4 linked regions of the Homo sapiens genome follow. The protein of the gene in region 1 interacts with the protein of each later gene in a biochemical or structural test. Each region holds a gene or a part of one and is shown in the gene's direction. Other genes may lie near its edges.

Region 1 (3,500 bases):
TAGAGCAAATGCTTCTCATAGAGATGCTATTAGGAAATAGGTACCTCCTTCCTCAAGAGTTCTAGTTGTTGGGGTTTTAAGTCACGTAACTGTACATATTAGCAGGTAATAAGGGACAGGATGAAGGAGGGATGACCTTTAAACTCTTTGGATTTGATCTGCTTATATTAATTTTAGGGACGCAACTTCAGGATCTATAAATGATATTCAGGAATTCCTTTCATTGTACTTCTTGGCTGAAAGAGGTTTTGGTAATCGTGTTTGAACATGTAATTTATTCCTAAAAAACAAGGGTGTTTGCTTTGTGGAAATGAGAAGGCAATCAAAATAACCACCCACCGTATATTGAGCAACCAACCACAGTGTGTTAGGCATCATATTAGGATCAATACAGATACAATCAGAGTATTTTTTTTTTTTTTTTTGGAGACAGGGTCTTGCTTTGTTGCCCTGGCTGGAGTACAAGGGTGTAAGCATGGCCCACTGCAGCTTCCACCTCCTGGACTCAAGCTATCCTGCCATCTCAGCTTCCGAGTAGCTGGGACTGTAGGCACACACCACCATACTTGGCCAAATGAAAAAAAATTTTTTTTGTAGAGTCAGGGTCTTGCTGATCATTTGATCTCGAACTCCTCGGCTCAGGGGATCCTCCTGCCTTGTCCTCCCAAAGTACTGTGGTTACAGACTTGAACCACCTCACCTGGCCACAATAATCTTAATTCTGTGAAGTGAGTAGTGTTATTCCTAATTTACATTTGAGGGATTTTCAGCTCAGACTTGGCAGAGGTCTACCACTTACTATAACCCTGGCTGGTGTTCAAACTTAAGTCATTCAGATATCAAACCCATGCTCTTTTTTAACTACGCTAGTTATAGGTAGAACATTAAATGAGATGTAGATTATTTAGCACACTGCTGGAACTGCAATTTGATACATATATTTTGTTGAAAGTGGGTGAATAGCACTAGCTTTATATGTGAGTAATCATACTCTATGGTTGGGCTGTGTAAAACTTTTTATTAGGTGACTGTACAATGTTTATTTCAGATAGTGGCTTAAAAGCCACTTTTGTATTTATCCACCTGAATTATGCGCCTGTCAGTATACTGTTAACAGATGTCAGAATATGGTTTTTTTATGTGATTGCAGAGGGAGACTTCAATTCAGAATTTTATCCTTCATAACATTATAGTGATTTTAAAAGTTATATGCAGCAAATGTGTAGTATTTTTCTCATTTCAACTTTCACAGCAGTAGGCAGGTGGTTGTATCCCTTTTTTTATAGATTAGAAAAGTGGGACTCAGGAAAAGTTAGTTCACTTGTTGGAAATTCTGCAGCATATTAGGACTTAAATTCAGGTTTTCTGACTAAGAATCTGATGTTCTTTTTTATTTACATCATGTATATTGCATGCTCTTTATGTCAGGGCATGGTAATCAGATGATACATGATAGTCTGTGGCCCATTCAGTGTAGGCTTTGTTTTCCCCTGAATTTCTACTTCAAACATGCTTATCTGGCCGCTGTTTATGCAACTACTTTAAAAAAGGAACCATAAGGGAAAAATGAAGTCATACAGGAGAAAAACAGAAATGTAATTGTAGCCACTGATACAACCAAGCTCCTGTTTCCACTTTCTCTGGTCTTTTTGGGATTTTCTCCTTTTTGCCGTTACCCTGCCCTTTGATCCTATGTCCTTGCTTATGCTTGTTTTCATCAAGAAGAGTCTCAATGATATGCAGTAGAAAGAAACCATGGTCTGCTGTTTTGTGAAGAGTAGTGTGCCTTGACTTGGGGGTACAGGAGGAAGAGGAATGCAGAGGAGTGAGGATCATGGGAAAATGTTGAACTTTTCTGTTGGAGTTTCTTCGCCACTATGAAGGAAAACATTTTCCCATTAAAATAGAAATACTAGAATCATATACATAACATTTTTGGAATTTAATCCAAAACTTCATCTGTTCCGTTAAAACATACATAAAGAAAAGGAGTAATAAAATAGGTTGGGACTAATAAGCAGCAGATTATATTACTAAGATTTTTCACTATTACTGTAGTTAATTAGTTAGGTCTGGCTGATTATGGCTTTTAGAGCAAAGAATAGGATGAGGAAAATGCAGCTGTTTTATTATCACTAACAGAGATGTGGTGAACAATCCTCTTAGATGTTAAAAACGAAACTGACCCAGGAAGAGAGCCCTCATCAGTACCAGACCATGCTGGCATCCTGATCTCAGACTTTCAGCTTGTAGAACTGTGAGAAAATAAACTTATGTTATTTAAACCTAAATACATAAGTACACCTTTATCTCCTTTTTCCATTCTCTTTGTATGCTTGGGATCCAGGATACACAAATTGAAGTTACTTGTTTAATGATTTTATAACTATGTCAGAATTTAAGTTAAAAGTGAGTTACTCTGTATGTAGAAAGGCTGAAAATAGTACAACTGCAGTAATTCTGTCAGCTATAAGGGACGTGTGGACTGAGAGGGTAGTCTTAATAGATTGTGATCAACTATATGTGAAAACATTTTGTGTAGTGAGTTGATGTGTAGTTTACATGTAAACTAACTCCTTTAGTTCGAAAGGAATTTTATTTTACGTTAAAAGATTATTTTAGGCTGGGCTTTAGTGGCTCACGCCTATAATCCCAGCATTTTGAGGGGCTGAGGCAGGAGGATCGCTTGAGCCCAGGAGTTCAAGACTGGCTTGGGCAAATGGTGAGACTTTGTCTCTAAAAAAATTAAAAAATTAGCCAGGCATGGTGGTGCGAGCCCATGGTCTCAGGTGGGATGATTGCTTGAGCCCAGGTGATAGAACAAAACCCTATCTCAAAAAAAAAAAAAAAATTTTTTTTTTGTATGTATGTAACTCTTTACTTATCTACTACCTAATAATCCACAAAAATACCCACAAATCCTTAATTACGTGGAGGAGGAGGAGATGATAATAGAGATCATTTTAACTTTGAAAGATAATGGATTCCGGGCCAGATGTGGTAACTCACCCCTGTAATTCCCAACACTCTGGGAGGCTGAGGTGGGACGATAGCTTGAGTCCAGGAATTCAAGACCAGCCTGGGCAACATGGCAATACCTCATCTCTATTAAAAAAAAAATTATTAAGAAAGAAAGGGGCCAGGTGCGGTGGCTCACGCCTGTTACCCCAGCACTTTGGGAGGCTGAGGCGGGTGGATCACAAGGTCGAGGGATTGAGACCATCCTGGCCAACCAACATGGTGAAACCCTGTCTTTACTAAAAATACAAAAATAAGCTGGGTGTAGTGTTGCATGCCTTTTAGTCCCAGCTACTTGGGAGGCTGAGGTAGGAGAATCGCTTGAACCCGGCAGGCAGAGATTGCAGTGAGCCGGGATTGTGCCACTGCACTCCAGCCCGGGCGACAGAGCGAGACTCCGTCTCAAAAAAAAAAAAAAGAAAGATAATGGATTTGGTTCTGCCATTAGATCTGGGTTGGATCCTGGGTCTGCTATGGTTTCT
Region 2 (3,336 bases), on another chromosome or scaffold:
CCTTACACCTGGTTCCCGGAGGTTTAAAAACAAGAACTTTCGAGCTGGGCTTATGCCTCTAATCCCAGCACTTTGGGAGGCTGAGGTGGGTGGATCACCTGAGGTCAGGAGTTCGAGACCAGCCTGGCCAACATAGTGAAACCCCCGTCTCTACTAAAAATACAAAAAATTAGCTGGGTGTGGTGGCAGGCACCTGTAATCCCAGCTACTAGGGAGGCTGAGACAGGAGAATCACTTGAACCCAGGAGGTGGAGGTCGCAGTGAGCCGAGATCGTGCTACTGCACTCCAGCCTGGGCAACAAGGGTGAAATTCTGTCTCAAAAAAAAAAAAAAAAAAAAAAAAAACCCAAGAACTTTCTTCCTGGATTACCATATGTGAAGTTAGATGTTTTATTTTTTACCTTATTCAGAATATAGAAAGTGTCAGTGCCTTAGCAGTTTGTAAATATCTTGAATCAGGTAATATTAAGTAATCTTTCTGTCAGTAACCAAGATACGAGCTGTGTTTCATCCTAAAAGAACATCCAGGTAGGAGAAACAAAAGTGTACATTTTGACAGTGGTTTATATTTTGTATACAATACAATAATATATTCTGAGGATTGTTTTTAAATATCTAAATCATCTTTCAGTAGTAATTTATTTTTAAGACCTAGTGTCATATGGATAATACTGATGTGTTTTGGAAATCTTTCTACAAGATAACTTTTGTTCAAATGAGACAATAAAATGTACTTAAATCTACTCCAAGTGACTTAGTGTTTTAGGAGATACACAACTGAGCAGTTTGTTTATATTTCTTCCTGTTTATGTTTCTTATAAATAGTGGACTTATGGTATTCTCAATATGAATAGCTCTGTATGGTAAAAATCTCAAGTTACCAGAGATTTGGGGAATTAATGGGTTTTCCTATTAAGGGCTTTGAGGGTTGGGAGGCTAACTAAACTTCCCTCTAAAATCTTCATTATTTCCTCGGTGTCTACAATATCTGAATTTCTGCTGCTGCCAAAATAAGTAAATATACAGACTGTAAGGCCAGTTTTCTTTTCTAAATAGGGAGCTCTCAGTCTGAAAATTGATCATTGCCCAGCTCAGTGCCTGGCTCAGAGTAGGCACCCATAAAATATTGGTTAAATAGATGAGTGATAAATTGTCCAGTACTACAGACAGACATGTAGAAAGTGCAAAGACTGTGAATCATTTGTTACTGATCCAGGATATCCATTGAAAGCATTTCTTAAAATCATGAATGTAACTTTGCTTATATGAATTTTCTGCTTCTTCTTACTAATGAAAAATGATATGAAGCTTCCTGATGAGTCATCTGCTACTGATTTGAGCCTCCAATGTGTAAGTGATGATTGTTCTTCACCATCCAGGAAATTATTTCTAATTCTGGGTGTGTTTGCTTTTGTTACAGCTATTGTCCAAGGAGATACTTTAGAAGATATATATAACCAATGCAAGCTTGTTATTGAAGAGCAATCTGGGCCTTTCATCTGGATTCCCTCAAAGGAAAAGTTATAAATTAGCTACTGCGCCTCTGACAACGACAGAAGAGCATTTAGAAGAACAAAATATATATAACATACTACTTGGAGGCTTTTATGTTTTTGTTGCATTTATGTTTTTGCAGTCAATGTGAATTCTTACGAATGTACAACACAAACTGTATGAAGCCATGAAGGAAACAGAGGGGCCAAAGGGTGGGACAGAAAAGACATTGCAGTATGAAGGAAGGCTTTGGTTTGCTCAAAGTGCCAGGTGTAGGGATGAACCTCTGACGGGCTTTCTGCCCAAGAGATGAGATGAGAGCCTCCTCACCCCAGCAGATGTCCAGAGCTGATTTAGCTGCAGAGCTCTCTGTGTCTTTTGCTTTAAAGAAAAATTGCCAGCACTCGAACCTCATCAGCCTTCCCATTACCCACATCTGTAATTGGTACACTTTGAATTTTATAACTATGCACATCTTTTGATTTCTTAACAAGCAAATGAAAGAAAGAAGGAAAAAAGAAAGGAATCCCTTTGGAGATGACATACTATCAGGGAAGGATAAGTGTGTAGTTTTTTGACTGGCATCTGCAAAGACAAGAATTTCATAAAATTTGCAAGTGTATGGAGGACTAACCTCACTGACAGGAGGGGATTCCACCTGGGATTAGCTTTATGATTGTTGATTGCCTATTTTGCCATTTATAAACTGAAAGAAGGCACTAAAGATGAGAATAATTTATACAATAAAAATATATTAAATGTATAGAAACAAATTTCTATAGGTTAAAAAAGTTTTGTGAAATATTTTGTAAAGACTAATATTGAAAGACTAAATGTATGCAACATCAGCAGATGATCAAATTCAAGACCTGAAAGTTGCACTCTCCCTTTTGTTGCCAATGATCTGTTAAGAGCATCTGAGTTCCTTTTAAGTCTGACAAAGACTTCTTCCTCACTTACCTCCCTTCCACATTAGTGATACACTCTCATGCAGCACATCCCTTAATGAGTTGCCCTCATGGATATTTTTGGAAGACATTTGGTTAATGCATTTTTTTATGCTGATGGCTTTTCAGAGACAAACTTATGCAAATGATCTAAAGGGAAGTTTTTGCTTTCCTCTAGTTAAATAACCTGAGCCTGCCATGCAAATAGTTGAATAACTTTGTTCCTAGTTACTGACATACAATTCTTAAAGGACCATTTAGCATTTTGGCCAACAATGAGTAATTAGGATTAGTACCTTTTTGTTTTACAGAGTAACTGAGAGTTTTGTAACATCCAGAGATGGTACTAGAGCCAATGAGAGATCTGTTCCTAGATGCACTATTTCTTTGAGGAAGAGAGAGAAGAGAAGTGTCTGGTTGGGGGTGAGGGGGTGCAGACTTTTTTGTTTCTATGTACAGAGCAAAGAGATAGAGTCACAAGGAAAGACAATTAATGACTTTGAGCTCAACCAACTGAACTGCCTTTCTTGGAGCTGCACCTGGACCAAGTTTATTTTTTAACAATTATAATAACGATGATTTAAAAAAAGAAACCTCCCAAAGCCTATAAACTGAACTAGAAGAGTTGGTTTCCCACTTTAGAGTGGATGGCGACATCAGCATTGCTTTTGCCCATGGTGTTTGGGGAGAGACTTTTCAGTGATAATAACCACTCTACTCTGGGTTCTGTGCATGCCCAGACTAAGCCCCATCGCCTTATTTCTGGGGTACATCCAGACCTGGCAGGGATTCTGCCACACTGTGCAGCAAACCAGCATGTAGGCTGGGTAGGAGAGCAAGAGATAGAGCCATCAGAGTGATGGGGCTTCTTCACAGTAAGAACATCGGAGCTTAG
Region 3 (3,500 bases), on another chromosome or scaffold:
TTTTAGTTTTTACTCTGTAACTGAACACTGTAGATTTGTAAGGTTTTTTTGTTTTGTTTTGTTTTGTTTAAACTCAGGGAAAAAAAGAGGGTGTTATTATCATCATGTCATGCTTTGCTTGTACTGAAGTGGAACACACACAGAAAAATGATCCCTACGTGGTTTAATTAAGGGGAAAGTGAATTGTGTAGTGTTTTACCATTCTCATTTCTTATTCATGTAGAACAGCAGGATAGCAGCATAATGTTGCAATAGCACAGTATTTTCTGGTTGTTTCTGGGCTGTCTGCATTGCATCCATGTCAGCCATTAAAATCTATGCATGACAATGAGGTTTGCATGAGCAAATGCATGTAGCTAAAAACAAGCCATTGTTTTCATGTCATTCACTATCTTTCACTAAATGCAGACAGTAGCATAATGCTAAATTGATGTGATAATGCTGTGTGTGGAAAAGAAGGTACAGTCGTTGGGAATAAATATTTTCACAGTGTTGAGTAAGTCACTTTATAGCAGGCATCTAATCAACTGTGATCAAGGTGAATTAATAAAAGTGAAAAATAAGCAGGCACAGAATCATTTCTTGATAGAAACTACCTAAGTGCTGTTATTTTATTTCTATGGGGTTAGTGGGAACTAATGGTAAGTTGTTTTCTTGAACTCATTTAATGAAATCAGTACATGAATTTTAAAACAAATTATGTCCATATTAAATGATGTTTTGTATATCTAGGTATAAAATCATTGACTTCATATTGCCTATTTTGTTATAATAATTGAAATATTAATGTATAATATAGGAAGAAAAATCCTGTTCCAGATAAGATTTCTCAGTATGGAATAATAATATGGTATATTGGTATAAGCTAACAATAATCTGTTTGAATCTATTATTTTATTTTAGTTTTCATTCTCTTTAAGGCATCCTTAATTTTTTAAAAAAGTTAAATTTGCTAAGCTTTTGGGTTGGCAATAGCAAGATTACATATGTATTCAAAAGTATGTATACATACAAGTGCTCTTCAATTTATTAAAAAAATACTTATGAACTTTTATGTGCAAGCACCAGATTAGACTCTGTGTCATACAAAAGAGTGCAAGACGCCATCTCTGCTCTTAAGGTGCTCATAGTCAACACATGTATAAAATAATTATAATAGTAGATAGTACATATAACAAAGTTATTTGGACTCCAGGAATAGGAAGAATTGCAGCTAACCAAGGTAACTGGAAAGGATTTTTATGAAGACAGGAAAATTCTGTCATAACAGATAAGCCCTAGGAAGCTGGAAATAGATGAGTGGGACTTTACCAAAGAAAGAAATCCTAGATGGCATCTAAATGAAGAAAGTCCTCTGCTTTTTGTGTTCTTTCTTTCACAGGAGAATACTATAAAAATATGAGAAGTTGCCTGAGCTACCCACTGCAAAGCATATGATTAGCCTTTATTTCCCTCATTTTATTACCAAAAGACCATCTTTTTTTTTTTTTTTCAGGCAACAGTTGCAGCTTTTGCAGCTAGTGAAGGCCACTCCCACCCTCGAGTAGTTGAACTGCCAAAGACTGATGAAGGCCTTGGTTTTAATGTGATGGGAGGAAAGGAGCAAAATTCCCCCATTTATATCTCTCGCATAATTCCTGGAGGGGTGGCTGAAAGACACGGAGGCCTCAAAAGAGGAGACCAGCTGCTATCAGTGAACGGAGTGGTATGTTTATAAAATAACCAGAGATTTTCTCCTTAAGCACATTCTTTTTTTTTGCCCCCTGCTATTACTGAAGTCAACGTTGAAAACCTAGAATAAATATTCATTTTATGTCTAACCAGCTTTCTAAGCATTGATGGATATTAAACCTATAAAAGCTGCAATCTAATTTTTATGTCTCATTTCATTATGTTCAGTTATGATAAATATCAGTGAGTTGAAAAAACATCCCAGGAAATTAATCCAACTAGCTGACTTTCTTCCCATAATACTCCAAGTAACATTTACAAGAATACAGTAATTTCAAGATACTTTTTATCCTAAGTTACTATAAGCAAATACATACATTTTAAGAATAAAGATATAGCTCCTTACTTTGTAATGTGTGTGGGTTTTTCATTTTAATTACAGAGGAAGGGTAATTTTAATGTTTATGTAATAATAACACATATGAAAAAGGCTAATGCACTCAAAATTTTTTTTTTTTTTTTTTTTTGAGATGGAATCTCACACTGTCCCCCAGGCTGGAGTGCAGTGGTGCCATCTCAGCTCACTGCAAGCTCCGCCTCCCGGGTTCACACCATTCTGCTGCCTCAGCCTCCCAAGTAGCTGGGACTACAGGCGCCCGCCACCAAGCCCGGTTAATTTTTGTATTTTTAGTAGAGATGAGGTTTCACCATGTTAGCCAGGATTGTCTCAATCTCCTGATCTCGTGATCCGCCTGCCTCGGCCTCCCAAAGTGCTGGGATTACAGGCGTGAACCATCGCGCCCGGCCTCAAAATTCTTGAAGCCAGATCTACAGCTATAGTATAATAAAAACATATTAGCCTTCCTCCAAAAAAGAGTTTGATTAAATTACCTATTCATAATATATGCTTTCGTTTTTAAATGAAATTAGAGTAAATTAAAATATGTAACATTTTAAAGTAAAAGTATGAATATACATTTTCTCATAACATATTCTCTGGATGCCACCACTTCCACTTGTAATAAGGAGTTGCTAAAGAAATTGTTTCCTATGAAACAAACATTTTCTCCCTATAACATCCACTTATATTAAACATAAATTACCTAAAAGCATACATTTCAGAAATATAAACAGAAACTTATCAATGTTACCTTTCGATTAACCTAAGATCTTTTTTCTAAGAACTTAAGGATTTTAATATATAAACTCGATTTCAGTTATTTGTGGCCAGATTGATTTATGCTTGGGACACAATATCCAAAATCAAATGTAATTGGAACATGATATTTTATTGGTAACTGTAGAATGAAATTCTTCTGTATTCATATCTTGAATTTTATTCATTTGTTTCTTATTTTTAGACTGACTAGTAGTTTCATAGAACCCAAAACTATTCCTTCAACTCTGCTGTCCTCTAATGTATATCAAAATTCTCAACCCATGAATATTTTCTATCACTTCAGCATTCCAATTACTACTTACTTTTTTCTATGTAATAATGTTTTGAGATAAGCTTTTTATTGACCTTTAGATAACTGTGACTTTTTCAAAGCATGTTTCAAGTGATAATTTCAGAGTCTAACTTTCTGGTAGAGGACTCTAGAGCTAGGTCACACAATTGCGTCACATAGAGGCTTATGCCCCAGAGTATGAACTTGCAATTTCTCTGAATATATTATATAAATCAAATAAGGTATAGATTTAAAAACAGTATGAAAAGTTTAAAAAATTTCAAAGTATATTAACAGTAATTATAATTGTGTAAAGTAAGAATATATATATATATAATAAATTTAATACGTGGTTGACTTTGAGCTTTCTTATAAGGG
Region 4 (3,500 bases), on another chromosome or scaffold:
AAGGAGCCAACCATGCAAGTCTCAGGGGAAAGCACTCGCAAAGCCCATAAGTAGGGGGCATTTTGTTTTTGTTTTTGTTTTTGTTTTTGAAGAAACAGCAGGAAGGCTGAGCTTGATGGCCCACACCTGTAATCCCAGCATTTGGGGAGGCCAAGGCGGGAGGATTGCTTCAGTCCAGGAGTTTGAGACCAGCATGGGCAACATGGCAAAACCCCATCTCTACAAAAATAAGCCAGGCATGGTGGTATGCACCTGTAGTCCCAGCTACTAGGGGTGATAAGGCAGGACGATTACCTGAGCCTGGGAGGTCGAGGCTGCAGTGAGCCATGCCTGTCAAAAGAAAGAACTAGAAGGAAGGAAGGAAGGAAGGAAGGGAGAGAGAGAGAAAGAGAAAGAAAAAGGAAGGAAAAAGACAGGAAGGGAGGGAGGGAAGGAAGGAAGGAAGAAAGGAAGGGAGGAAGGAAGGAAAGGGAGGAAGGGAGGGAGGAAGGAAGGAAGAGGGAGGGAGTAAGGAAGGGGAGGGAGGGAGGAAGGAAGGAAGAGGGAGGAAGGAAGAGGGAGGGAGGGAGGGAGGAAGAGGGAGGGAGGAAGGAAGGAAGGAAGAGAAACAAATGAAAGAGAAAAGAAATGGCAGGAGAGTCAGTGGGGCCAGAGCCAAATAAACAAATGGTGCAGAAGGGAGTGGAAGGGATGGCGGGGTCCAGATCATGGGGGCATGGTAAGAACTTTGGGATTTATTCTAGTTGTGATGAGAACCCTCTGAAGGATTGAGAGCTGAAGAGTGACAATTGATTTATGTCTGAGAAGGATCACTCTGGCTGCTGGATGGAAAATAGACTCACAGAATATTTATTAAGCACCTGCCACGTGTGAGGCACTGTGCTAAGCACTGTGGGAGACATGGGGATAAATAACGTGAGCTGTGCTCAGGTCACTTACAATTTAGTGAAGCAGACAGATCCGTAAACAATCCACCGGGAATTCAGGTGAATTGAGTCAGTGGCATAGCAGGCAATAGTGTTTTGGTTAGAAGCATGAGCTTTGTAAGTCCTGTAGCTTTGAGTTCAAATTCTGGCTTTATGCTTTACGACTTACTTAGCTATTGGCCTCAGTTTCCTCATTTGCAGATGTCAATAATGAAAGTAATACGTGTGCCCTAGGATTGCTGGGATACTGAACCGTAGGTCTTTGGCGGAGCGGCTGACCCTGTAAGCACCCCACAATGCTAGCGCCCCATGCCTGCTCGTGTGGGACCCGGGACTTACCACAGGACACTTGGGTTAAGCTTTGAAGATGCTGAGGAGCTTTTTTTTTTTTTTTTTTTTTTTGCATGAGCAGGAGAGATTTCTATGCTGTTTTTACCTAGGATTTGGGGAAGTTACCCTGTGGCAGAGACTTACAAGTTTCTCTCCCGGAACTTCCTCCTGTGTTATGTTTCCCTGGAGATACATTAATAGTGAGAAAGTGTAAGTAGAATTTGGAAGAACATCTGGCCAGCAGAGTCCCTGGCTGGTTTTCTTGGCCTCGGGCTGCTTCCTGCACGCCCCTTTCTTCATCGTCTCAGGTTAATCACTGGGGTGCAGGAGCTGGTCTTTTCTTGCTAAAGCCACTGCTCTCTACCTGCCAGATTCCTTGAGATGATTCTCCTTCCAAGACTAGATTTGAAAAATGACACTCTCCCCTTTGGTGCCTCCTTTCTTTATAGCCCTCGAATGCAACCTTCTTGTTTGGGATACTTTAGCAAAGCCGATGTGTTTGGGGAGGAACACAGGTTAGTCTCACAGGTTGAAGAAGTCTTCTGCTGGTCCCAGTTCCTGACACTAAACTCTTGAGTGTGAAAATCAGCACATCTCCACTTGTCTCATTTCCAGATGCAATAGCTGCCTCCTCCAGGAAGCTACTCTTTCTGCCACTAAGTCTAGGGAGGTTCTTTAGGGTGGAGATCCTGTGAAATTACAATTCAGTGAATTTCAGGCTGTCTTCTTCTCCTTCTCCTTTTCCTTCTCCTTCTCCTCCTCCTCCTCTTCCTCTCCTCCTCCTCCTTCTTCTCCTCCTTCTTCCTATTATTCTTCTTTCTTCTCCTCCTCCTCTTCCTTCTTCTTCTTTCTTCTTCTCCTTCTCCTTCTTCCCCTTTCTCTTCCTCTTCCTCTCCTCCTTCCTCCTCCTCCTCTCCTCCTCCTCTTCCTTCTTCTCCCCCTCCTCTTCTTCCTCTTTTTCCTCTTCTTCCTCCTCCTCTCCTTCTCCTTCTCATTCCTCCTCTTCCTCTTCTTCTTTCTCTTCCTCTTCTTCTCTTTTCTCTTCTTCCCCTTCCTCTTCTTCTTCCTCTACTTTTCTTCTTCTCCTCCTTCTCCTGTTTTTTCTTCTTTTTCCTCTTCCTCCTCCTCTTCCTCTTCCTTTTTAGCAACAGTGCTATTTATCCAAATAAAATCTTGTGTGAAACCCAGAAGAACAAACCACACAAGCAGAGCTGTTCTGGGATGTGAAGTCAGTGTGGATGCCCAGAACCCCAACTTGTCAACCATCTCCTCCTTCCCCCTGGGTAACCCCTGGATTCCTCAGGGGAATCCTTGAGTTCCGAGGATCAGAATTTGAAACCCATCAGAGAAGGGCGTTGAAGTGGGAAACACCAACTTGGATCTCTTTTATCCCAAAATCCATAACCTGTCCCACCTGACAAAGGTTGAGGGAATTTTCTCTGAGGCCTGTAGCCCCTTTGGAGCTATTCTAAATAGACTAATCAGGAACTCTCCATCAACAGGGTGATGACAGTTTGTTTTACTGGAGAAGGTTTCTTGGAGCCCTTCTCTGCCCGTGGAAGAAGGAGAGAGGGGCATAACTCAGGTTATGCTGCCAGCCCAGTGGGATCGGGGGAAGCGTTGCCTTTTCTGAGTGTTTCTTGCCACCTGCCTTCTCCCCTGGGCACCCTTGGGGTATTTCAGATCGATCAGCTAAAGCACCGGTTGAATAAGATGGAGGAGGAATGTAAGCTGGAGAGAAATCAGTCTCTAAAACTGAAGAATGACATTGAAAATCGGCCCAAGAAGGAGCAGGTTCTGGAACTGGAGCGGGAGAATGAAATGCTGAAGACCAAAAACCAGGAGCTGCAGTCCATCATCCAGGTGAGGGCCTGGGGGCGGGGCCAGCGCGGGCAGTGGGAGGGTGAGGGCTTGGGGTTGGGGGAAACGATGAACCTGCCAGGGTGTGAGTCCCCAAGCCTCACCCATGCTGACTGCAGGATCACAGGCATGCGTGCCATCCTTGGGCACCTTTGTCTCCTCCTCTGTAAAGCGGTGACCCCCACCACCCATTTGTCAGAGATAGGATATCATACTTGGGAAAACATGTGCTTATTTGAAGCACTCCAGGAAAATCACCAACCACGTGGAAATCAATGCCCTGGGCACTGTGGGAAGAGACAAGGACATCTAGGAAACCTACGTGCCCTTAAAGATTCCAAGAAACTCAACTGTAAGCTCCGTGCCTCTTGTTCCAACCTCAAA

The links. Proteins that work in one complex are often made in the same cells at the same time.
Region 2: the proteins of EGLN1 (region 1) and DLG2 interact in a test that uses a peptide from one of them, tested with the Homo sapiens proteins (one large-scale study listed by IntAct).
Region 3: the proteins of EGLN1 (region 1) and LIN7A interact in a test that uses a peptide from one of them, tested with the Homo sapiens proteins (one large-scale study listed by IntAct).
Region 4: the proteins of EGLN1 (region 1) and CARD11 interact in a test that uses a peptide from one of them, tested with the Homo sapiens proteins (one large-scale study listed by IntAct).

The regions. Positions count from the first base shown.
Region 1 is NC_000001.11:231,415,788-231,419,287, reverse strand, and holds part of EGLN1 (egl nine homolog 1), read left to right. Parts: intron 1-3,500. UniProt on the Homo sapiens protein: Cellular oxygen sensor that catalyzes, under normoxic conditions, the post-translational formation of 4-hydroxyproline in hypoxia-inducible factor (HIF) alpha proteins.
Region 2 is NC_000011.10:83,458,009-83,461,344, reverse strand, and holds part of DLG2 (disks large homolog 2), read left to right. Parts: intron 1-1,420; coding exon 1,421-1,527; 3' UTR 1,528-3,336. UniProt on the Homo sapiens protein: Required for perception of chronic pain through NMDA receptor signaling. Regulates surface expression of NMDA receptors in dorsal horn neurons of the spinal cord.
Region 3 is NC_000012.12:80,843,935-80,847,434, reverse strand, and holds part of LIN7A (protein lin-7 homolog A), read left to right. Parts: intron 1-1,495; coding exon 1,496-1,705; intron 1,706-3,500. UniProt on the Homo sapiens protein: Plays a role in establishing and maintaining the asymmetric distribution of channels and receptors at the plasma membrane of polarized cells.
Region 4 is NC_000007.14:2,939,368-2,942,867, reverse strand, and holds part of CARD11 (caspase recruitment domain-containing protein 11), read left to right. Parts: intron 1-2,939; coding exon 2,940-3,119; intron 3,120-3,500. UniProt on the Homo sapiens protein: Adapter protein that plays a key role in adaptive immune response by transducing the activation of NF-kappa-B downstream of T-cell receptor (TCR) and B-cell receptor (BCR) engagement.